2 linked regions of the Homo sapiens genome follow. The protein of the gene in region 1 purifies or fractionates together with the protein of each later gene. This does not show direct contact. Each region holds a gene or a part of one and is shown on either strand. Other genes may lie near its edges. The genes, in order: PPP1R12A and MPRIP.

What was found.
Region 2: the proteins of PPP1R12A (region 1) and MPRIP purify together in Homo sapiens (co-immunoprecipitation; 3 studies listed by BioGRID and IntAct, with this or other methods). This does not show direct contact.

Annotation. Positions count from the first base shown.
Region 1 is NC_000012.12:79,802,892-79,814,652, reverse strand, and holds part of PPP1R12A (protein phosphatase 1 regulatory subunit 12A), read left to right. Parts: intron 1-4,642; coding exon 4,643-4,858; intron 4,859-6,075; coding exon 6,076-6,170; intron 6,171-7,322; coding exon 7,323-7,427; intron 7,428-8,319; coding exon 8,320-8,487; intron 8,488-8,884; coding exon 8,885-9,061; intron 9,062-11,761. UniProt on the Homo sapiens protein: Key regulator of protein phosphatase 1C (PPP1C). Mediates binding to myosin. As part of the PPP1C complex, involved in dephosphorylation of PLK1. Capable of inhibiting HIF1AN-dependent suppression of HIF1A activity.
Region 2 is NC_000017.11:17,032,845-17,045,493, forward strand, and holds the start of MPRIP (myosin phosphatase Rho-interacting protein), read left to right. Parts: upstream 1-9,612; 5' UTR 9,613-9,908; coding exon of another isoform or gene 9,909-10,004; coding exon 10,005-10,127; intron 10,128-12,649. UniProt on the Homo sapiens protein: Targets myosin phosphatase to the actin cytoskeleton. Required for the regulation of the actin cytoskeleton by RhoA and ROCK1.

The sequences.
Region 1 (11,761 bases):
GTAGAGACGGGGTTTCATCATGTTGGCTGGGTTGGTCTCAAACTCCTGACCTCAGGTGATCCACCCGTCTCGGCCTTGCAAAGTGCTAGGATTACAGGCATGAGCCACCGTGCCTGGCCTGAAATTTTTTTTTTAATGAAGAGGGGGAGTCCTTTTTTTTTTTTTTTTTTTTTTTTGAGATGGAGTCTTGCTCTGTTGCCCAGGCTGGAGTGCAGTAGCACGATCTCGGCTCACTGCAAGCTCCGCCTCCCAAGTTCACGCCATTCTCCTGCCTCAGCCTCCCAAGTAGCCGGGACTACAGGCATCCACCACCACACCTGGCTAATTTTTTGTATTTTTAGTAGAGACGGGGTTTCACCGTGTTAGCCAGGATGGTCTCGATCTCCTGACCTCGTGATCCACCCGCCTCAGCCTTCCAAGGTGCTGGGATTACAGGCGTGAGCCACCATGCCCAGCCGAAGAGGGAGTCTTCTTATCAATACTGTATGACTTTTAAAACCTGTTATTTTCAGTGATTCTTATACTCCTGTATCTAATTTAGCATATTAGTATTTTTTAAAATTTTTTCAAGTTTATCTGTAACTTTAGTGACCTAACATTAAATTTCCTTAAACAGGTTGTTAATTTCTAATTGCATCTTAAAAGGTTTTGCAATTATCTGTTTTTAGGTTCCCAGTCATGACTCCACTTCTAATATTTAGATAAAGTTATCAAGTTCTCCAGCTTCCTACCCCAGTACATAAACTATGTATGTGTGCACTTGTGTTCATGGCAAGACAGATCACAAAAATGGAAGCACACGAAACAGTTTTACATGCTTATTTTCTTTTAATAACTTGGGGTAACTATGGTGAAAGATAGATGTGTTTACTTTAATTCCTTAACCCTTCCGCTGAAATTAAAGAACTGTTTCTGTAGCAATATCAAGCTGATGATTTGTGGAGATGTTATCTATAAAACCATCAGTTTGATTTTGTGCTTAAAATTGTTAACTAACAAGTTTATATAAGCCTCTCTGGTCAAAATAAATTTTGTTGGGATCTCTAAAGCAGATTATCTATTCTTCTATATGGGTGTACATTCCAATAAAATGTAAATGGCATTTTCTTTACTTGATGGTAAAAATTCAGAATTTTTATGGAATTAAGTGTTCTGGTTAATTGAATTCAATGTAATAGCTAATAATTTAACAAAAGACTGCTATGTGCTGTGGGTATATAAAGTAGTCCAATCGAAACGTACAGATGTAGCATGATTTAAAAGGAGAAGAAATTATATTTGACTTAAGGTAGTAGAATCAGGACATTTTAGATAAATCTTAAAGTAGGTAGTACTCCACCTGAGAGAAGAAGGGCTTGTAAACCTTGTTGAAAGGGAGAGAAGAAAAACAATATGAGCAAGTGGGGATAATATGGAATACTTTCGCAGGAAAAATGAATTGTTCCATTTGATTGATTTATAGGGTGCATATATACAAAGTAAACAGGAAAAGTAGAGCTATATTGCAGGATGTCTTCAACTGTAGGATAACACTTTTATAATTTATTTGATAAGTAGTAGTCGTGGAAGATGTTTGAACAATGCCATGAGAGGATTATTCTTTATAGAATATTATTCTGACAGCAGTGTACAGATTTGAAGATGAGAGGCTTATTGAGAAAAGGTTTATTAGAAAGTCATTGAAGTTGCCCACAATGATAAGAATATGAACTAGAGAAGTGACTCTGGGCTTATAAAGGAGAGGAGATTTAGAGACTTGACCTCTAATTTATGGATGGAGGAAAATGACAGAGAAGGTCTAACATAATTGTGAAGTTTGAAACATAGGAGATTGAAGAGATATACTTAGTGCCATTAACAGAATTAGGGAACTGAAGAAGAGATGGTTTGGAAGTAAAGGTGTTTTATTTTAGACATACTGAGTTTCAAGTTTTCAGTTATAGTTCTAGATTGTCCACTCTAGAATAGTGTGGTAGAATTTTACCTAGAATAGACAGGTAAAATTAGGACTGGAAATTTAGGAGACTGGACTGGAGAATAACACATTTGAGAATAAGCTGACTACAATTAATATTTAGCCTGAGGAAGTAAAGACCCTCCTCCTAACCCCCCAGGAGAAGAAAGTAGAAAGAGAATATGAGAGATCCAAGAGCAGGCTCTGGAAGGGCTAGCACAAGGAAAGTTGTACACACACACACACACAAACACACACAGCCTGTATAAGGAACGTTACACACACACACACACACACACACACACACGCACACACAGAGTCAGTCAAGAAAAGGAATGGTCAGAGTAAAAAGAAAAAGAAGGTGAAGATAGTGTCCAGTAAAAAAAGCCAAAGAAGAGAGTTTAATGGAGGAGGAGGTATAGTTAAGTATTTCAGGAAGGGTTTATTTATATATCAAGTAAAATTAAAAGGTGCTTTTAGACATATAAAGCAGTACTTAAATCCAAGTTCATGTTGGGCAGAGTGGAGGTATATCAGCCATTACAGTGTAACAAATGCCCATTTCAAAATTGATAGATAGTACTGCCTCGTTTTTCTCAACTCTAAAATAACAGTAATAGTAGTATTTCATTGGGTAATTATAAGGTTGAAACAGGATAACCCATGTGAAGCACTTAGCTGAGGGTCACACACTAGTAAATATTTGTTAAATGTTAGCTTCATTTATAACAATAAATGTTAGCTTCATTTATAACAATAAATGTTATCTGACTGACTGACTCTGGCTGTTTTATAATGGGGGAAAAAACGTTTGTTTCCAGGTTTTTTGTTTGTTTTTTTGTTTCTGTTTTTTGAGGAGGTGGGAGACCTAATGTGGGTGTTGGCAAACTATGGCTGGTGGGCCAAACCTAGCCCATTACCTGTTTTTGTATAGCAAACTGGTTGGAGAAAAAAAATAAAAAAAAGTCATTGTCCCTAAAGTTTTATTGGTTACAGCCACACTCAATCATTTGTGTATTAATATTATCTGTGTTCCACAAAGCCTAGCATTTACAGTGTAGCCCTGTAAACTCACCAATCAATAAGCAGCTGTCTCAGTACCTATCATATTGCACAGAATATTAGAGTTCGCAAACTTTCTTGGTCATTGGAGCCCCTAGTGTTTGGTAGGATTTTTTCACAGTGCCACTGGCAAAAGGAATTGCCTGTTTGTCTCATTAAGTAGTTTGATGGAAATGTGATCAAAATGGCAGTTTGTGCAGTGTCTATGAGATGTCACTGTGCTTCTCTCAAAACTTTAAAATATTCTACAGAGCCCCCGTGATTTTGTTGTGACACTCTGGAGCACTTTGGTGCACATTTTAGGAACTGAGGAATGCTTAGACACTATTGATAGCAATTCATTACTGGAAGTACCAGAGGTATATCTTTATAACAGTTTTGTCCATGAAGTGGCCCTCAAGCATCATCATGGGGGCTTTAACAAGCCCTGTTAACCTGCTAATTATAGCAAATGTTGGCAATAGATATGAAAGAAATGATTTTTAAAAAATTATTAATACCCTATGCTTGTGGCAACTAGTTAGTTGCTGTATTCACCAATCTATATAGTTAACTGTGGTTGAGTATAGAATTTCTAGAAGTGAAGTTGATGAAGTGATCTAAAGATAACAGAGGTTGCATTTTTAGGGTTGTTGGAAAGCCCTTAAAATAGCATAAATATTTGTACATAAAATTAGTTTTTATTATAGTTGAAATAGTTAATGTTTGGTGGGGAAATCAGTAAATTTAAGGCTGTGATGTTAAAAAAAAAAGTATTATAATTGGAAAAATATCAGTTACTAGTTTTTGTTGATTATATTGGACACAAAATTTTTTAACCAGAGTATATACATGGATTAAAAACAAAATTCATGTGCAGTAGTTTGTTCAGTCACATGCTATATTATCTACTCTGTATGCCTTTTAATTGCTTTAGAAGTTTATTAGATTTTTTTCAGATTATCTCATGCTAAAATTAGAACTTGTTCCCAGTGACTTTTAAAGATTGGATCATTACCCAATTATTGGGGTTAATTATAAAATTATTTTCAAATGAAGAAAATATTTTTTGTTCATAACTTCCCTTTTCTGTTTTCATGCTTTCAATCTTTGTCTCTTTACCTGTCTTATTTTAATTGGCTTTAGTATGATTTCATTGCTCCTATCATGCCTGTGGTGGAATCAGTAGATCCTGCATCATGGAGGCAGGGCTTGCGCAAAACTGGCATTGTTCTTGTGCCCAGTAAGGGTGAAAAATCTATGGTGAGGCATTTCTATGTGCAAGAATTTATATTAGGTTACAACATAACAAGTTTAATATAAATTGGTTCCAAAGATGCATGGTTTTAAGTCCTTATGGTGTGCTCATTTCTGTTTTCTGTATTTGCATCATAATTTTTCTGTGTGATATAAAGTGTGTAGTGTGTTTTCTTAAGTCTAACCCCTAGGAAGGTAGTCTATTTCTTTAAAATTTTTAGATCTTTACATTTTTTACTAAGACATTAACCTATGTAGTAAAAGTGTTTTATCCTGAAACTGTAAACCATAATTTTAAATATATTATCTGTAAACTTATTGTTTCCAATTTAAGGACTGATCAGCTTTACAAATTCTTTTTTCTTTTCCTAAAAAATAAAATAAACACAGTTTCCAACCACAGCTACAAAAATTTCTCCCAAAGAAGAAGAGAGAAAAGATGAGTCTCCTGCAACTTGGAGGTTAGGACTTAGAAAGACGGGCAGCTATGGTGCACTTGCTGAAATCACAGCATCTAAAGAGGGTCAGAAAGAAAAAGATACTGCAGGTGTTACACGTTCAGCTTCAAGTCCCAGACTTTCCTCCTCTTTGGATAATAAAGAAAAGGTAATCTATTTCACAGTCTGGTTTCTATGAAAACTGTTATGATTTCTTTTCCAGGAACATCAAATCTGGTAGATTTTCTGCTAGTTATCTTTAGATCTAGGTATCAAGTTAATTAACCTTAATGAATTACATAAGACAAATGTAATTTATACAGAATTATAAATACTGGAAAGATCAGATGTATTTGCCTAAAACATAAATTATGGGACTATACTCCGTTAAAGGAATCTATTACCTTACTTGAGAATTTATAATAGAACTGTATTAAGGAGCAGGCTTATTTTGTTTATTATGATTCAAGAAACTTTCTGAAGTTTAAAAAACATAGGAACACATTTATTCTAGAATGTTAGTATACTCATAAGTTACATTTATTCAGTATCTGAAAAAAAATACCAGATTTTTCATCTACCATATTACAAGCAACTTTGTCTTAATGAGTAAATTTAATAACTATTTTGAGAGGTGGTATTAATACTGCATTATATAGGATGTACCACAGTTTATTCAATACTAGTATTTATTTCTACAGCATATTCAGTGCTTGAACTATTTTTTTTGCCCATACAGTTTTCTTTCTATACTTAGAAATGTTTCCTTATATCAGAAATTCAGATGAAATTTCTCATCAAGTAATTCTAATATTTTTGCTTTTTTATCAGTTTACTGTGCAGTTGGTTTCCAGGTATTTTATGCCAGCTTACTAGGAATGTATCAGAGTGTCATTGTCACTACACACTCTTAGCCATATTTGGATAAATATAATTTAAATAATATTTGTTTTGACTATTTTGATGTATTTGAGAGCATTGATTATCAAGGTTCTAAATAGCTTATATAATATAAATGCTTGAGACCTCTCAGTGAACAATATTTGAAAGTTTATTTCTCTGGAAGAAATAAAGATATTTCAGCTTATGACACAGTATTAATCTGTTAGAGAAGTTTTAGAAAAAGTCATTAAAATCTGGAGAAATTTTTTTCCTTTCTTAGTAAAATATTATCTGATTCCAGGCTAAAAGAGAAAGAAAACTAATTTGAACAGGCTGATTATTGATTGACATTAATTTTAGAGTTCAGCTAGGAATTGTTGAAATACTGTAAACTATGATAGCTATGTAATTATAATTATTGAATAACCTTTTCTTAATACTTTTAGCATTGCCTATAGTCAGTACCCAAATTAATTTTTACTTATTTTTTTCCCTGTTGTGTAGGAGAAAGATAGTAAAGGAACTAGGCTTGCATATGTTGCACCTACAATACCAAGACGACTAGCCAGTACATCTGACATTGAAGAGAAAGAAAACAGGTGAGTTTATTTTGATTTGCTTTATGCATTCACTATAAAATCTTTATTATCTAGCATTAGAGTTAATACATGAGCATTGTAATTATGTGCGGATATGTATTGTGGGAAGAGATGGAGGATATTCCTGAAGGAGAAAATACCAGGTACATAGTCCTGAGGAGGTGCAGGCTTGGTATGTTCATGAAATAATAGCAAAGAAGATGTGGCTGGAACAGAGTAAGGGGAAAGTGGGAGGAGATAAGGTCATGAACTAGTATGAGTTCTCTAAATATTTGGAACATTTAGGAAAGGGGAAAGAAGAAGGAAAGCCCTTACTTAATCATTTTAGTTTGTTTTAAATATTTTTGTTTAAATATTGTTTAAATATTTTAGTTTCTTCCTGTTTTTCAGCTTATAGAATTTTATTTTTTTAATTTAATTATTTTTATTTTTATTTTTATTTTTTTTGAGACAGAGTCTCGCTCTGTCACCCACGCTGGAGTGCAGTGGCGCAATCTCGGCTCACTGCAACCTCCACCTCTCAGGTTCAAGTAGTTCTCTGCCTCAGCCTCTCAAGTGGCTGGGATTACAGGCACCTGCCACCCTGCTCAGCTAATTTTTTTATTTTTAGTAGAGACAGGGTTTCACCATCTTGGCCAGGCTGGTCTTGAACTCTTGACCTTGTGATCCACCTGTCTCGGCCTCTCAAAGTGCTGGGTTACAGGTGTGAACCACTGCACCCGGCCAATAACTTTTTAATATACTTTTAATCATGTTATAATATCTAATTTTTTTATTTTTTTCCCCTAAGATCTCATAAGCAGTCTTCTATGTTAATATATATTTTTAATAAGCATTTTTTTTGTCGGCACATAACATACTATAAAGTAGATCTTCTGCGGTTAAAGTAAGCATCTCCCCTACTTTATATTTTGTGATCAAAAAGCATATTTCTATAAATATCTGAATTTTCCCCCATACTTAGGGGAAAAATTATACCTTAGGGTATATAATCTTAGTACTGAAATTACTTTATCTTCTTGATTAGTATTCCTAAGTGTCCTCCCAAAGGTTTTTACTAGTTTCAGCTTATACTAATATTTACTAGTGTACCGCTTTCTTAATCCTATTTTAAAATTATGTACCAGAATCTGAAGGGTGTTCTTTTAACAGAGATTCTTCAAGTTTGCGAACAAGTAGTTCATATACAAGGAGAAAATGGGAAGATGATCTTAAAAAAAATAGCTCAGTTAATGAAGGATCAACGTATCATAAAAGGTAATAATACTATTCTTAAGCGGTTTTTATGTATTCATTTATAAAAATATGAGGCAATTTGTTTGGAGCCCTCAGTTTAACATCATTTTAAACAAATATGTGTTTTTATTAAATACGAGTTTTTGTTGTTTAAAACTTACTCTAAACACAGGATATATATTTAAAGATAGGTGATAATTTGTTATGCCTATTATATAATTAAGCTTCAAATATTATGAAATGTTTTTTGGATTGTTACATATTTAAAAGGAACTCCTTTAGAAGGAACTCCTTGACTAGAACAACTTAAACAGGCCAGTGTCTTAATGGATCTAGTTGTCATTGTTGATCTGGAAAGATTTGGCTTGCCCTAGAACTCAGAGCTATGGAAATGCCTTCAGTTGGAATGTTGGTAGTATCATATTGAAGAGGAAAAAAAAGCCCTATAAACAATTTCTTTACTAAAAGCAACCAAAAAGAATAAGATGTGAACAAGTATCATGTAGGCATTGGTTACTTCCGAGGTATCTGACCCATTGCTGAAATAATTTCCTTCAAAAAAATGTCAACGTCTTGTTTTCCCTGGGTAATACAAAACCAAAGTGTGTTTTTCAGGCTCAGCCTGGCATGACCATATGGTGTGGAATAGTTTCAAAAATATGAAATATCAGATCATCTTTGTCTTGTTGAGAAAGTTGGGAGGAGGCACTAAAATGATACACTACCGAATTAAGTGAAATCTTCTAAACTCTAGCAAGTTGTAGATGCAACTCTTGGTGCTGGAGCTGGTGGTGTATTTAGGAACACAGTTTTTAAATTTTTTTTCTAGCCTTGTAATTTATATAATGTATAGACATTAACTATAGAATACACATACAAACACATCCTATATAGATATGACTCTTTTGTTTAGTTGCTCCTTTGGTAGAAGACAAGATGATTTGATTAGTTCTAGTGTTCCAAGCACCACATCAACACCAACAGTTACCTCTGCAGCTGGGCTTCAGAAAAGCCTGCTTTCCAGCACAAGCACTACTACAAAGATTACAACGGGTTCTTCCTCAGCAGGCACACAAAGCAGGTAAGTCACAGATACATTTTGTGCTCAGGTCTACTGTGTGCTTATGTATGTGCATGCGTTTTTGTTTAGAAGATTGTGGGGCTCTGGATTTTTTCATTTATCTTGTTAAATTTATTTGCAGACAAAAATTGGTTCCAAAATGAGGCAATTATGCATGTCTGGGGGAAATTTTAAGTTCCTGAACTATGAACTTTCCTTGAATTAGACTGCTTAAAATGTAAATTTCTCTCTTTGACAACTCTGGGTGAGCTTTTTGGTTCATAATTTAAGGATGTCTCACCTTGCGTTTTAAAAAAATCCATCCCTGTAGTCATGTGTTTTCAGCTGCTAGAAAGTGCTTTCATTGTTTAGCTGTTTTCCTTTTCTCTTTTTTGTGTTGCTGCTTATGATGCTATAGTACCTCAAATCGTTTGTGGGCTGAGGATAGTACTGAGAAAGAAAAGGACAGTGTTCCTACGGCAGTGACCATTCCTGTTGCTCCAACTGTTGTAAATGCTGCAGCTTCTACCACAACCCTGACTACAACTACTGCTGGCACTGTCTCCTCCACAACAGAGGTCAGGGAGAGACGCAGGTGTGTAAAGGTCATAACAGTACTGCTGATATATCTTGCCCAGTGATGAAAGTTGTTTTTTGTTTTAAAAAAGATCTTGTGAGGTTGATGGCCATCTCTCCAGTAGACTAATAAATGAAATACCCTGTCAGCTCAGAACTATGTAAATTTATACAACTAGCAATTATTTATATTTAGGCTTTGCGACTCACCTCTGACAGAATTAATGTTTTTTTGTTTAAAGTCAGTGAGCAAGACAGTTGTTTTCTTAAACATTTTAGTTTCTAAGGTGGTTTATTTCAAAAAAAATTTTTTGATGAAGAACTGAAAACACCACACACTTAGGGAAAATTAGATGCAACATGACAAAAACAGGTTTTATCATTCTTCTCATTGTTTCCTCCCATTATTAAGAAATTTGAAGGATGTTGAACTGTTTTGTTCCTGTTGATTTGGAGAATTTCTTCTCTTGGTAAGGAAAGACTTCTGTGCATAAGTGTAAGCCAAATAATTTTGAGTATGTTGAATACATTCATTTAATTTTATCTCTGATACATAGAAAGCACTTATTCAGATTTTTTCAAAGAGTCTGAATTTATTTTGTGTGCTTAAATATTTTTAAAAGATTGCTCACTTCTTTCTGTTGCTGCCTACTGGCATGGAATCATAGATGTACAAAGGAGCTTACTAACTATCTTTTGGGATTTCCTTGCTTTACCGAAGGAAACTGAGACCCAGAGATAATATGTGACTATTTTACTTTTGTATGCTTTATTGGTGTGAGGGCTGAGGCTAGCCCCAAGATTGCAGGAAAAGTAGTTCAGTTCTTTCTGCTATATTATGCATAGTCCCTAGCTTTTTTTTTCCTCTTGAAAAAAAATAAAACCTTAGGAAACCAAATGTGAGCTTTATTTTTATATTTTATTCTTGCAAAATTAAATGAACTATGTAACTAATTTTTTTTTTTACTAAAATACTGACCAGATTAACTTTGTTTTATTTCTGTCACGTAGTACTTACATACAGAGTTCTTTTTCTCTGTTGCCTACTGAAGTGCCTGGCCTGTAGTAGTAATGGCCTCACAGTAATATTTGTGTTTGAATATATGAAAAGTAATAAGTTAGTGTTAACTTTTTTTTCTATCATTGCATCTTTAGTTTTTGCCTATATTTAGGTTTTGTTTCTATTTCTATGGTGAAATTTAGTGGTACTTTTATAATGCCACTGCAAGTGGTTAGTATTTTGTGATTTGAGTACCAGTATAGGTCATATTATATTTTAATTATCTTCCCCTTTTTCCTATAAACTTAAGTCAGTTTTAGGTTGTTGTAGTGCTTCTCAGTAAGACCACAGAGCCAACAGAAATTAGTATCCATCATTTAATCAAACTTAAATAAGTTTGAGGGCTTTGCTTTTTTTGGTGGTGGGGTTGGGAGGGGTTATTGAAAGGAAGAAGGATCAGAAGTTCTTGGTTTCTTACTCCTTACTCTGCCTTGATTCTTAAGGTTAGAATTATCTTTGAGTCAGAAACTCTTCTGTTAAATGAGGTGTTTGATTTATATTATTTTTAACTTCTAGAATCTTTTCTATCTCTAGCATAGAGATTCAGTGCTTTTGAAAATTTCTCCAGTGACAAAACCTAATAAATGTCTCCCCAGAATCATCAGTTGTTTCAGAACAAATTATGATTCTTAACCCACAGATTGTTTATTCTGCTAAAGAGAATTGAGTTTTGACTTTTAGAATTAGTCCTAATTAGTTTTAATGGAAGACATTGAAGATTGAAAATTAAACGCTTGGATATATTTTTAAACAAACAGATTCTAATTGCATAAGAAAAAAATGTGGCAACATTTTTTCTCGTCTATATTATAGAGGTTTTTTGTTTGTCTTAACCTTGTTTCAATGATGTTTGCAGTGATATTGTTTGTGTTTTGTTCCATGTGAAATAATTGTTTGCAATCTTGAATACATTGTTGGCCTCTTCTCTTTGTCTTTTATTTAAATTTCGTCAGTGGTTCTGAAATGTATATGATTTAAAATTTGCCTAAAAAATGTATATATGTTGATTTGAGAATATACTGTGGCTAAAACAAAAAAAGTCAACACAGGTATACCCTTTGGGTTGCTCAGAAAATGGTAAGCATCTAAGGAATAAAATTATATACCCTATATAGTTCTAAGAAAGAGATGCAGTAGGTCAGTGTGATACAGCAATGATAAAGGCAACTATGGGGTTTGGTGGGTATATTCTACCATCTTTTAATGATCAGCTCTTTGCAATTAAAAGTACATAAAATATATAAATTATTTTTCTTCTCTATGTCGTATTCTTAGAGGTCTCCTCTAGATAGGTACCCCAAAGGAGGAGAAAGGAACTGAATATTAGGTGGTAATTATCAAATAAAGGAAATGTGTTTATATTACAAATTGATAAGCTATATTTTTATGCTAATTTGGGATGAATGTCATATGGAAAATTAAAATTATCTGCAGGTGCAGATTTTATGTATTTCAGTTAGTAACTTTTATCCCCCTAACCTTCATATGTGAAACCAGGTATGATAGATTTATTGACTTTCATGGCAATTTGAAACTATTGAAAAGGAATCCAGGCTCATAGGGAGAGAGTGTAGTGGTTGATAGTACTATTTGCCATGGTACTAAAAAAGAGCCAAGTGTCAATGCAAGTTTCTCTGTTATACACTAAATATGAAACAT
Region 2 (12,649 bases), on another chromosome or scaffold:
AAAGTACACAAACATTGTTCATGAATGGCTAGATACGCACATACGCATACATATGCAGCCCTGTGTCCCTGTGTGTATGCACATGTACATTATATATATATACATATATATATATATATATATATATATATATATAATTTTTTAAGATGAAGTCTTGCTCTGTCACCCAGGCTGGAGTGCAGTGGCGCCATCTCAGCTCACTGCAACCTCTACCTCCCCGGTTCAAGAGATTGTCCTACCTCAGCCCCCCGAGTAGCTGGGATTATAGGCGCACACCGCCATGCCTGGCTAATTTTTTTGTATCTTTAGTAGAGATGGGGTTTCACCATGTTGGCCAGGCTGGTCTCGAACTCCTAACCTCAGGTGATCCGCCCACCCTGGCCTCCCAAAGTGCTGGGATTACAGGCATGAGCCACCGTGCCCAGCCTACATGTGCATATATACACATTCATGTAGACATACACCTTGTTATTAGAGTTTTTACAAATACGGTCTCATTCAGCAAAAACTATGTGAGGCCATACATACTTTCCCCTTAATATGTTGTGAATACATTTCTATACTAATAAATATCTACACCCTGATTTTTTGAATAATTTTTGTTTAGTGATTTTAGATTTACAGCAAAGTTCCACAAAGTTCCCATACTCTTCCCCCACCTTCCCCTAATGTGAACATCTTACATAATCATGCTACATTTGTCAAAACTAAAAAGTTAACATTAGTAAAACATTATTAGCTGGACGACAGACTCTATTAGGATTTCGCCAGTTTCCCACTAATGCCCTTTTTCTGTTCCATGATCTCATCCGGCATCCCACATGGCATTCAGTCTCCGTCATCTCCTGAGGCTCCTCTGGTCCCTAACAGTTCTGAGTCTTTTCTTGTTTTTCACGACCTTGACACATTCGAAGAGTGCTGCTCACGTATTTTGTAGAATGCCCCTCATCTGAGTTTGTCTGATGTTTTTCTCATGAGACTGAGGTTATTAGTTTTTGGGTAAAAGATCACAGAGGTGAGGTGCCCCTGTCATTGTATCAGGGGGTACCCAGTAGCCACAAGACTTACCACCAGCGATGTTGAGGGAGCATCTGCTGAGTTTCTTCACTGTAAAAGGACTGTTTTTCTTCTTTCCATAGTCCATTAGAGGATGAGGATGAAGTTCTGCCTCTTGGAAGCGGTGGTTATCTATGTGTATTATTAGAATCTGATTTTACATGACAGAACAATGTTTCATTTTATGGATCTGCCCTCATTTATTTAGCCAGTACCCTAATGTCACACACTTCCATGACTTTCAGCTTTTCTTTTACAAACAAAGCTGCAAACCACAGCAGGAGCTCAACTTCAAATTCAAAAAAAATTGTGGTTTGTTTTTTTTTCTTTTGAGATAGGGTCTTGCTCTGTCATCCAGGCTGGAGTTTTAGTGATGTGATCACAGCTCACTATAGCCTTGAAATCCTAGGTTCAAGCAACCCTCCTGTCTTGGCCTCCCAAGTAGTTAGAATTATGGGCATGAGCCACCATGCCTGGCTAATTTTTAAAAAATGTTTTTGTAGAGATGGGGTATTGCTATGTTGCTCAGGCTGGTCTGGAACTCCTGGCCTCAAGCAATCCTCCTGCCTCAGTCTCCCAAAGTACTAGTATTACAGATGTAAGCCACCACATCTGGCCTCAACAAATAGTTTTCAAACAACTTCTCTGTAACAGACACTGCACACTCTAGTGAACAATGTTTGTATACCTCTTCAATGTTCTTTTTTCTTCTTAGAATAAATTCACAGGTTGGGATTACTAGGGCAAAAGGTAAGCACATTGTTAAGGCTCTTGATAAGTATCACTAAACAAAGCTCCAGGAAACTTGTACTAATCTGCTCTTTGGATTGACAATTTTATCTTTTTCAGCCTTTTTTTTCTTATTACAAAAATAATTTCTGTTTTTAGGAGATAACTGGAAATCACTCACTGGGCATTTAATGATATTAAAGAATTATTGTTTTTTTAGGTATGATAATGGTATTGTGGCTACTTTTTGAAAATAGTTCTTATCTTTTACAGACACACACAGTAGATGAGGGAGTATGGTTGAAACAAGACTTGTCCTGAGTTGATATGGAAGCTGGGTAATGGATACATCCACCTTCATTATATGATTTTCTCTATATTAGTAAGAAAACAAAAGCTTTTATTAAAAATTTTAAACATGATATAAATCTCTAGCTTAAGTGTGAGTCCCCATTCTTTCACCTCCCAGGGTTAACTGCAATGAACGGTTAGGTGTATGTGCCCCTGACCTTCTCCATGTAAACACTAACTGTGAATATTGCTAACACACACACTCTTAAAACAAGGATGAGCTACTACAATGCACACCATTTCTCCAACAGCTTTTCACTTCACCATATTTTGAGATGGATGGCCACGTCAACACTATCTCAGTCTTTAACAACTAGCCCCATGGTACTCCCCTGTATCAAAGAGCCATAATTTATTCATCCGATCCTCTAATGATAGACAATTGGAGTATCTCCAATTTTTGCTATTAAGAACAATGATGGAATGAACATCCTTGTACATAATATCTGTGTACCTGTGTGAGCAATTTTACAACCTATCTTTCTAGAAGTGGAATCACTATGTCAAAGTGGTCACAGACTTAAAATTTAAATAACATGTCCAACTTGCCCTTCTGGTGGACTTTCTGTGTCAAGTGCACTACATTCTCTCCTAGTGCACATCTGGAGACTATTGTCATTTGGTGCCTGCTGTAGAAAAGCCTCATGGCGTCACAGCTGGAAAGGGCCTCCGAGATCTTGTGGTCTTGCTTCCAGGGAAGGGTGGGGCCCAGCCCCCGATGCTGTCAGGGCCACGTGCAGCTCCCTGGGCTGGAGGTTGTGTAGAGCAGTGCTCACGAAGATACTGCCCATGTCTGAATCCCAGGCTTACCATTTACTGTTGTATGACCTTGAATACTTGCCTTGTCCGTGCCTCAGTTTTCTCATCTGTAAGCTGAGGATAATACTAATTCTGGGGTGGCAACTGGAAAGGGGTTAGGAGATTTTTCTTGAAGCTACATTAACAAAGTATATATTTATTTGGGGTGGCTTTCAGGGGATTGATGGATGATGGGGGGTGGGCACTAAGGACTCCCATCAGACACCACCAGCGCTGCCAGAGCTAATTTCAAATGATGACAGCTGGACTTAGTGAGATTCGACGTGACGAATGCCCAGCACACGGCACACAGCCTGGCACACTGTCAGTGCTCGATGGTTGTGAATTCTTGAATGCTGACAGGTGCTGTCTGGGACAGGGAGACCAACATTTCAGAGAGACTGTCCAGGAGAGGGAGGCCCGAGCAACAGGAAAAGAGGGGACCCAAGAAACAGCCTAATCCAGCCCGCCACTTACTACTTAAATAAAGTTTGATTGTAACACAGCTGCGCCCCTTCATTATGTAATGTCTATGGATGCTTGCACTTGACAATATCAAAGCTGAGTAGTTTCGACAGAGACCATATGGCCTGACAAGGCTAAAATATTTAGTATCTGGCCCTTTACAGAAAAAATCTGCCAACCCCTGGCATAGGGGTTATAGGCATACTAATACATGCTGATAGTTCTTGAGCTCACACCGTGTTTCAGGGACTGTTCTAAGCACGTCACATATATAAATTTCTTTAGTCCTCACAATACTCGTATGACATGGCTACTATTTATGGTAGCTAGTCTCAATGGTGGCCCCAGTGAACCACGTCTCCTGGGGCTGACGCCTCTGTGGGCCCCCCACCTCGAGTCTGGGACATCCTGTGCCGTGTGCTGACTAATGGCATGCGGTCGAGTGCCAGGCCTGGCATTAAGGAGGATGGGTACTTCTGCTTCTTTGCTCTGGGGAACACTGAGGTGCTGCACGCAGAGCAGAAGGGGAAGCCATGGGGAAAGGAGAGGCTCTGAGGCTGCAAGGAAAGGACGAAGGTCCAGCCAGCCCTGTCTCAGTCCAGCCTCCAGTGACCTCACCCAGCTACCATGCAGCCACACTTACAGCAAGCAAGACCAGCAGGACTGCCGGGCAGAGCCCAGTCCACTCTCAGAACCAGAGAGACAAGAAAATAGTGCTCAAGCCACTCTGCTTTGTGGGGTGGGGTGGTTCTGCAGCAATAGCTGGCTGAGACACACCACACCAGAGCCTTCGCCTTTCCACCCTCCTTTATCCAGTGGTTCCAACTCCTGTGTGGTTATGAGAATCCTCCAAGTAGCCTTTACAGACACCAATTAAATCAGAATATCTGGAAATGGACCAGAATAGGAATCCTTTTTTTTTTTTTTTTCTGAGACAGAGTCTAGCTCTGTCACTCAGGCTGTAGTAGCACTGTGGCACAATCTCGGCTTACTGCAACCTCTGTCTCCCAGGTTCAAGCCACCCTAGTAGCTGGGATTACTGGCCTGCACCATGATGCCTAGCTAATTTTTGTATTTTTAGTAGAGATGAGTTTTGCCATGTTGGCCAAGCTGGTCTCGAACTCCTGGCCTCAAGTGATCCACCTGCCTCGGCCTCCCAAAGTGCTGGGATTACAGGCCTGAGCCACCGCGCCCAGCCTCCAGAGTAGGAATTTTTTTAATCCTCCAGGATTTGAGAACCACAGCTCCACCCACTATTTCCAAAACTTGCCTAGCAGAAATATTTTAAAAACAGATTCTTCGGCTGGGCACAGTGACTCATATCTGTAATCCCAGCACTTTGGAAGGCTGAAGCAGGAGGATCTCTTGAGCCCAGGAGTTCGAGACCAGCCTGGGCAACATAGTGAGACCCTGTCTCTACAGGAAAATTAGCAAGCAAGGTGGCACACTCCTGTAGTCCCAGCTACTTGGGAAGCTGAGGTAGGAGGATCACTTGGGCCTGGGAGGTCAAAGCTGCAGTGAGCCCAGATCACACCACTGCACTCCTGGGCGACAGAGTAAGACCCTGTCTCAATAGCAATGACAAAATAGATTCGTGCACTCCAACAGATACACAATTCCATGGGAGGCCCTGGAAACCTGTAGCATTCACACATTCCTCCAGATGAATTTTATTATCAATGATTAGCAGAAAAAGGGCGAGATGAGAGCCCAGCTCTCAGGTGTGGAGAACTGCTTGGCAGTTTCCCATCAGGTTAAACATTCACTTCCCAAAACTTAGCCATCCCTAGTCTTGGGTATTCCCAATAGAAATAAGTGCTTGGCCGGGCGCGGTGGCTCATGCCTGTAATCCCAGCACTTTGGGAGGCCGAGGCAGGCAGATCACGAGGTCAGGAGATCGAGACCATCCTCACACAGTGAAACCCCGTCTCTACTAAAAAAATACAAAAAAAATTAGCCGGGCGTGATGGCGAGTGCCTGTAGTCCCAGCTACTCAGAAGGCTGAGGCAGGAGAATGGCCTGAACCCAGGAGGCGGAGCTTGCAGTGAGCCAAGATCGTGCCACTGCACTCCAGCCTGGGCGAAAGAGCGAGACTCCATCTCAAACAAAAAAAAAAAAAAAAAAGAAAGAAGTGCTTATGTCCACCAAAGACAAGCACGAAGATACTCGTAGCATTATTCATAATGGCCCCAAACTGGAAACATCCTGAATGTCTATCCACGGGAACATGGACAGATAAATTGTAGTATTTCCACACAAGGGACTACCAGGCAGCAATGAAAAAGAATGAAGTACTGATATATACAGTAGCCGTGTGGATTGAATTTCACAGGCATACTGTTGAATGAGAAGAGCCAGGCATAGCTCGCAGCGGATTCCACTCATCTATGGTGATGGAGATCAAAATAGTGGTTACCTCTGGGTATCTGTGTGTAAATTCTGCTCCCTAACAGGACACAGGGAAAACTTCCCAGGATGGCAGTCAGAGCCACAAATCAAGACTTACCTGCATTTGGGGCTCACCTGAGCGGCCTTTTCTTGCTTGCTTGCTTATTTGCTTTTTTGAGATAAACAATATACATTGAGGTGTACACAATGCAGTGAAAAAAGCATACAGCCCAGTGAATCTTTACATGTTTACACTGAGTATTGAACTTCATGCAAAGTGCTGTTCTAGGCCCCTGGAAAGGGAAGCCAAGGTTATGAGACACAGACTGTGTCGGTATGGATTTCATAATCTGGTGGAGGAGATATTACAATACAAGGTGGAACGATGACTTTTCATCCATTCACCCATGGGGTGTTTTTCTTGTTTGTTTTGTTTTTTGAGACAGAGTCTCACTCTGTCGCCCAGGCTGGAGTGCAGTGGCACGATCTCGGCTCACTGCAAGCTCCGCCTCCCGGGTTCATGCCATTATCCTGCCTCAGCCTCCCTAGTAGCTGGGACTACAGGCGCCTGCCACCAAGCCTGGCTAATTTTTTGTATATTTAGTAGAGACAGGGTTTCACTGTGTTAGCCAGGATGGTCTCGAACTCCTGATCTCATGATCCGCCCGCCTCGGCCTCCCAAAGTGCTGGGACTACAGGTGTGAGCCACTGCACCCCCATGGGGTGTTTTTGAGCCCCTGCTCTATGCCAGGCACTGAACTAGACAGGGGAAATGGAGTAGCAACCAAGACCCCACTCTACCGTGAGGGTTTTGGAGAGGAGCGCAACTAATTGATTCTACCTCCTAAACATTTTCCAAATTCATTCCCTTGCCTCCCACTGACCCTATCCTAGTCAGGCTGCTACCCTCTCTCCTCTGCAGCTCTCTCAGTCCTTGCCCCTGATTCATTCTCCAGATCAGCAGCCCTTACCTAAGTGCTCAGCCGAAAAAAATTCAAAATTGATGACTGCCCCTGGCCCAGGCAGCTCCGGTGCTGGCCTGTGTGGGCTCAAATCTTCACTTGTAGGATCTATAATTGTGACCACAGGCAAGTTCCTGATATGTCCTGAGCCTCGTGTGTGTCTTCTATAAAATGGAGATGAAATAGTATTAACAACAAAAACCATACCTGTCTCCCTGAAGAGGCTAGGCTTGCACCATCCACTACTCCTCCCAGTGCCTCTCAATGCTGGTCACTCCTGCCTCTCTGAACTACCCAGTGATAGAAAGCTGCTTCTGTTCATGAACACACCCTTTGGTTTCAAGGCCTGAGACTCTATAATTGGTGCCCCAGTTTGACGTGTCTTTCCCTTCACCTTCTCTGGCTGGGTCTTACTCAGCTCCAGACTCGGCCTAGGCATTGCCTCCTCCAGGAGCCTTCCCTGAAGCTGCCTACGGGGCTGGGTGCCCCTGTGTGGGCCCCCACAACACCCCGGATTGAACTTCTCTGTCTCCTGTTTCTGTTTGTCTCCACTTGCTTGAGTGTGGGCTCCTGCCGGGCAGGCTGCCTCTGAGTTGCTGAATGAAACTCTTCTTTGCGCCCCTACTGTGGACCCCTCCAGTCCAGTGCAGGTGCTGGATGTGCCTACTGACCTGAGCAGAACATGCTGAGCACTTTAAGGGAGGTGGCCTTGAGGAATGGGCAGGACATCAAGAAAGAAAATATATATATATATATATATATATATGTATGTATATATATATTTTTAAACAAGTTGTACATGCAGACAATACTAAATTCAGCAGAAACAAAAGGGATTGCAATGAAAATTAAAAGTAGGTCACCTCTCAACCACCCAGCTCCCCTCCCCAGTGGCCACCTCTTCTATCAGTTTCTGAGTATTCTCTGCAGGGCAGAATTGTCAGTCTTCCGTCCCTTTTTTATTTTGCAAAAATTTAAAGCAACAGAAAAGTTGCAAGAATAGTACAATAAGGCCGGGCGCGGTGGCTCACGCCTGTAATCCCAGCACTTTGGGAGGCCGAGGCGGGCGGATCACGAGGTCAGGAGATCGAGACCATCCCGGCTAAAACGGTGAAACCCCGTCTCTACTAAAAATACAAAAAATTAGCCGGGCGTAGTGGCGGGCGCCTGTAGTCCCAGCTACTCGGGAGGCTGAGGCAGGAGAATGGTGTGAACCCGGGAGGCGGAGCTTGCAGTGAGCCGAGATCCCGCCACTGCACTCCAGCCTGGGCGACAGAGCGAGACTCCGTCTCAAAAAAAAAAAAAAAAAAAAAAAAAAAAAAGAATAGTACAATAAACACCTTTTGCCTAGATTCACCAATTAACATTATGCTACTTAACAAGCATTATATCATTTAATGTTCACATTAATTAATTAATGCCAATTTTGTACATGAGGTCACTGAGGCACCAGGCAGGTTAAGGGACTTGCCCGAGGCCACAGAGCTCCTGCCTGGTGGAGCTGGGCTTTCCCCCTTAGGCTGCCAAAGGACTTTGATCTGCCTTCCCACAGCTCCCTTTTGAGGAAAAGCATTTTCTTACACTAAGTTGAAATCCACCTCCCTGGGATATTTACCAGATGATCCGTGGAAAAGTACACAGCTCTGGAAGCATTTGCTACTTCTCCTCCTAAAACCTCCTCCATTCCCTGAGCGACAGCTGCTGTGGCTGCCACTACCACATGCTCCAATGTCACCTCCTCCGTGAAGGCTGGGTTAGCTCACCCCCCTGTTTAAAGACTCACCATGACTCCCAGCTGCCAGTGGGATGACATGTGCACGCCTGGGCTTGGAATACAAGGCCTGGGTGATAGAGCCCTCTTCCAATCCCTCTTGCTCCTTCTTCCCCTATCTCCACTTCCAGCCACACTCAACCCTCTCACTGTCCACTTAAACTTCCCCTCCTCCTTGAAGCCACCCGAATTTTTCTAAAGAGCGCATTTCTCCCCTCTCTGGGCTCCTGCAACCTTCTGCCTGAGCCTTTGACAGCCTTTTCCAGGTTGTCTTTTGGCCAGGAGGCTGGACAATGGAGGACGGGAGTGACAGCTCGGCCCCTTCCTAGCAGAGTGATCCTACACAAATTACTCCAGGTGTCTGACCCTTCATTTCCTCAAGCACATCATGGGGGAAAGAATGCCTAGCTCAGCACCTGGCAGAGAGTCAGCCTTCGCTCATCTCCCCTAATGGAGCTGACAGCTCTTCAAGTCCGCTGACATCTTCTCTTAGTCATCCCTTGAAATACTACCCGCTGTTACTTCTCTGCTCCTCAGTCTCCTCCTATGTAAAATGGGGATGAGAAAGGAGAGGTTGCGAACCTTTAATGAGCGAGCCCTTGGAGTATCCAGCCCTTCCCGACGCTAACTGACTCCTACGAGGGGGCCTGGTACACAGTAGGTGCTAAACTAATCCTCTCCGAGCTGGGCTTGGGGAAGATGCCTCCGTTGGGTGTACAGCGTGGGCGCGGGAAGGCGAGCCTGGGAGCGAGGGGGTTGCAGAGAGGCAGCCTGAGGTCGGCTCCGCCTTCCCCCGCATCCCCCGCCCGGGCCCTGCAGCTGTCAGCCCGGCCGGCCTCGGCGCCAGTCCACCAAACCTGAACGTCCCATGCCGGCGCCCCCACCTTCCCGGCCTGCACAACTTACCTTGCGCTCGGCGGCCCTCGGTCCCGCCCCCGACTGCCATTGGCCCAGAGGTTCCTTTGTTAGCGAGAGCGCGCCAACCCCATTGGCCGGTGGGGCTGCCGATCGCGTCGGGCGCGGCCCCGCCCCGTACGCCCCGGCACCTCCCCGCGCCCGGCCGCCCGCCCGCCCGCCCGCCCGCCCGCCCCCGTAGTGCGTGAGGCGCTCCGGTCCCATTTGCAGCGGCCGCGGGGCGCCGAGGGCAGCTGCGGCGGCGCGGACGAGCCGGGACGGCGGCGACCGGAGCCTGAGAGGCGGGCCGCAGCGGGAAGCAGCGGGCCCGAGGCCGCGTCCATGGGCCCGCGGCGGCCGGGCGGCGGCGGTGCGGGCGGGAGCTGGGCGTCGCGCGCGCTGTGAGGCCCGGGCGGCTCAGGAGCCTCGGCGCGTGCAGCGAACCGCCCGCCGGGAAGGAGGCCGGGCCGGGCCTGCGGCGGGGCCGGCGAGGGATGCGGCGCGGCCGCGCTGAGCCCCTAGCCCGCCGGGAGCGCCAGGCCGGCCAGGCCTGCGCCGCCGCCGCCGCCGCCGTCGCCGCCGCGCCGACCATGTCGGCAGCCAAGGAGAACCCGTGCAGGAAATTCCAGGCCAACATCTTCAACAAGAGCAAGTGTCAGAACTGCTTCAAGCCCCGCGAGTCGCATCTGCTCAACGACGAGGACCTGACGCAGGTGAGCGACTGGGGCCGGCCCGGACACCTCCGTTCTGGGAGCCGCGGGTCGGCGGCCGGGGCGCCGCCAAGGGCTGCAGGGAAAATAAAAATGGAGCAGGGAAATGCGCGAGTCCTGGGGCATGGGGACGGGGACGGGAAGTGCATTGACAGAGCTGGGACAAAGGGAAAATCCTCGAGTATGCCGAAAAATAACATCCTTTCCCGTTCCCATTGCCCGGCTGTGTGATTCATGCTTTTTGGGTGACTCAAAAGTGCCTGGTTTCGCTTAGTAGGAACAAAGCGCTTAGGGATTGCATGCCGCTTGACGGGACCCCCCTGAGATTCTGGCTTGGGACTGGACTTGGATTTGTCCAGCCAGAGTGGCCCAGGGGTCGGATTGTTGGGGAGGACTGTGGGCTTCCGTCTAGTGGGACGCAGCCTGCCCCGATTCTGAATCATCGTCACTGTCAAGCACTGGAGAGAGGTGAAGGGGTGTCCAAATCTGGCGAGGAGGGTCTTGTTCTTGAACTTAGTTTGGCAGGCCGTAGTTTAGCGGGGAGCTGGGACCAGTTCCCTGGTCACTGGCCGAGGGGTGAGGAGACCTGTGGGTCCTCGGGAAAGTTGATTTCTGTCTCCCAGCCTTAACTGTCAAACAGGGCTTTGAACTAGTTATGACTCCCAAACGTGCATTAGAGTCATAGCCATTAAACACAGAGTTCTGGGGCCCCCGCCCTGGAGTGACTGGGGAGATGGGGAATTTGTATTGATGAAAGGCTCCAAGAGGCTTGGCTGCAGCCCCCATGGCCCTTGGGAACCCCTGCAGTGATTGCTGTTTGAACTCCTAGTGTTCCAGGATTCCGAGCCTTGTGTGCACCTCCTTGGGATGTGCCTCGGTACCCTCCCCACGGCCATCATCTCCATCCTCTTCAGAGCTTTCTCTCAGCCTCCTGAATGAAGCCAGGGGAAGTCCCTTCACATTCCAGTCCAGTGTGACCTAGTTGTAGCCACTCCTGTCGCAGAAGAACCCCTTAGACTGAAAACGAGTGAACGGGCCTGGTTGTTTTTAATGCCACTTCAGTGCACCCAGGGTTTGACTTGTTTACATGGCCGACTGGAGTAGGGTGGTGGGGCAGGGGTTACGGCCTGGGGCACGGGGCCTTTCTCTGAGGTCAGGTTTCCAACTGCCAGGAAAAGATTCCTTTCATCTAAACCCCAAAAGCTTAACGAAACACTCAAGGCTGCAAAGTCATAGATGGTTAAGATACCAAGGGTTTTAAGGACGGTCAGCTTGGGACGGATAGAACTCATTTACCTCGGAGGGTGTTTTGGAGTGTAAAGGAGAACTTGATTCCTTCTTCTCATCTGGATGCTTTTTTGGATGAAACAGTTTATGCGATGAGGAGTTGTTAGGAGACTTTGCTTCAGGTCTTGGCTGTCACTTCCAGCTGTGTGACCTTGAACAAATCCCTTTACTTCTGTATCTTTTAATTTCCTTATCTGTAAATTGGGAATCCTGGTCCCTGGCTTACCTCCTTCACTGAGCATTTGTGAAAAGCAAGAAATGATATTTTATGAAACTTTTTTCTCTTACAATTTAACAAACCAAAAAAACCTGCCACTTTAAGAAGTTTCTGGGCAAGGGTTGTTCTGAGAGAGGTTTGTAAGTTTCCTGGTTATTCTAAGCAACTGTCAAAATTGGTAAATTTACACCTCATAGGGGCTGTTTTCGAATTCTTAAGCTTAGATAAACTAGGATGGAATCTGCATGTTTGAGTCCAATCTGCTAAGATTTTTTTTAATCTGTTGATTATTAATTGGATTCACGGGGAGAGGCAAACTTAAAATACTGTACTCTCACTGTATTCAAAGTTGAATTGTGGGTTTTGAAACAGGCCTGAGACCTTCAGGGCACAACTGGAATGGTAGTTTCTGAAATAATGAGTGGGGTTATTTGTGCTGGGAGAGGTTAGCCCAGCATTCTACCTCCTGGGATCTTTCAGGAAGAAACTGCTCTTGAAAAGAGAGGAGGGAGACTCAGGGCTGTTGCCAACAGCCTTCTCTGCTGCTCTCTGCATCCGGCCCTCCCTCTCACTCTCATCCTTATGGCTCCATTAGAAAACCTCAACCAATCGGTTCCCATCAGTCTCCCCCAAGCCCCTGCTTCCTGCTGCCCCTCCCAGCCTGGAGCTTATTTTAGACCGTCAAAGCTGGAAGATACATCAGCCACCATCGAGGCCACTCCCTCCTTAAGAGGAGAGGATACTGGGCCCAGGGAGGTGGTGGGCAGCCTTGGCCGGCTTTTGCTCTGGAGATGTCATCTTCCCAGGAGCAGACATTTCTCTGAGCCTTTTGGTTTGAGGTTTATTTCCTCAGCTGTGGGTTTTGTTTGTTTGTTTTTCCCCTAGAGAGGCACAGAAACCTCTTGCAGGGACTGTATTATGGCATCAGACCTGGAAGGGACTTGGAGATCAGCTAATGTAACCACTTCCTCTTACCGGTGAGAAGATTGAAACCCAGAGAAGGGAAGTGACTTGCCCAGTT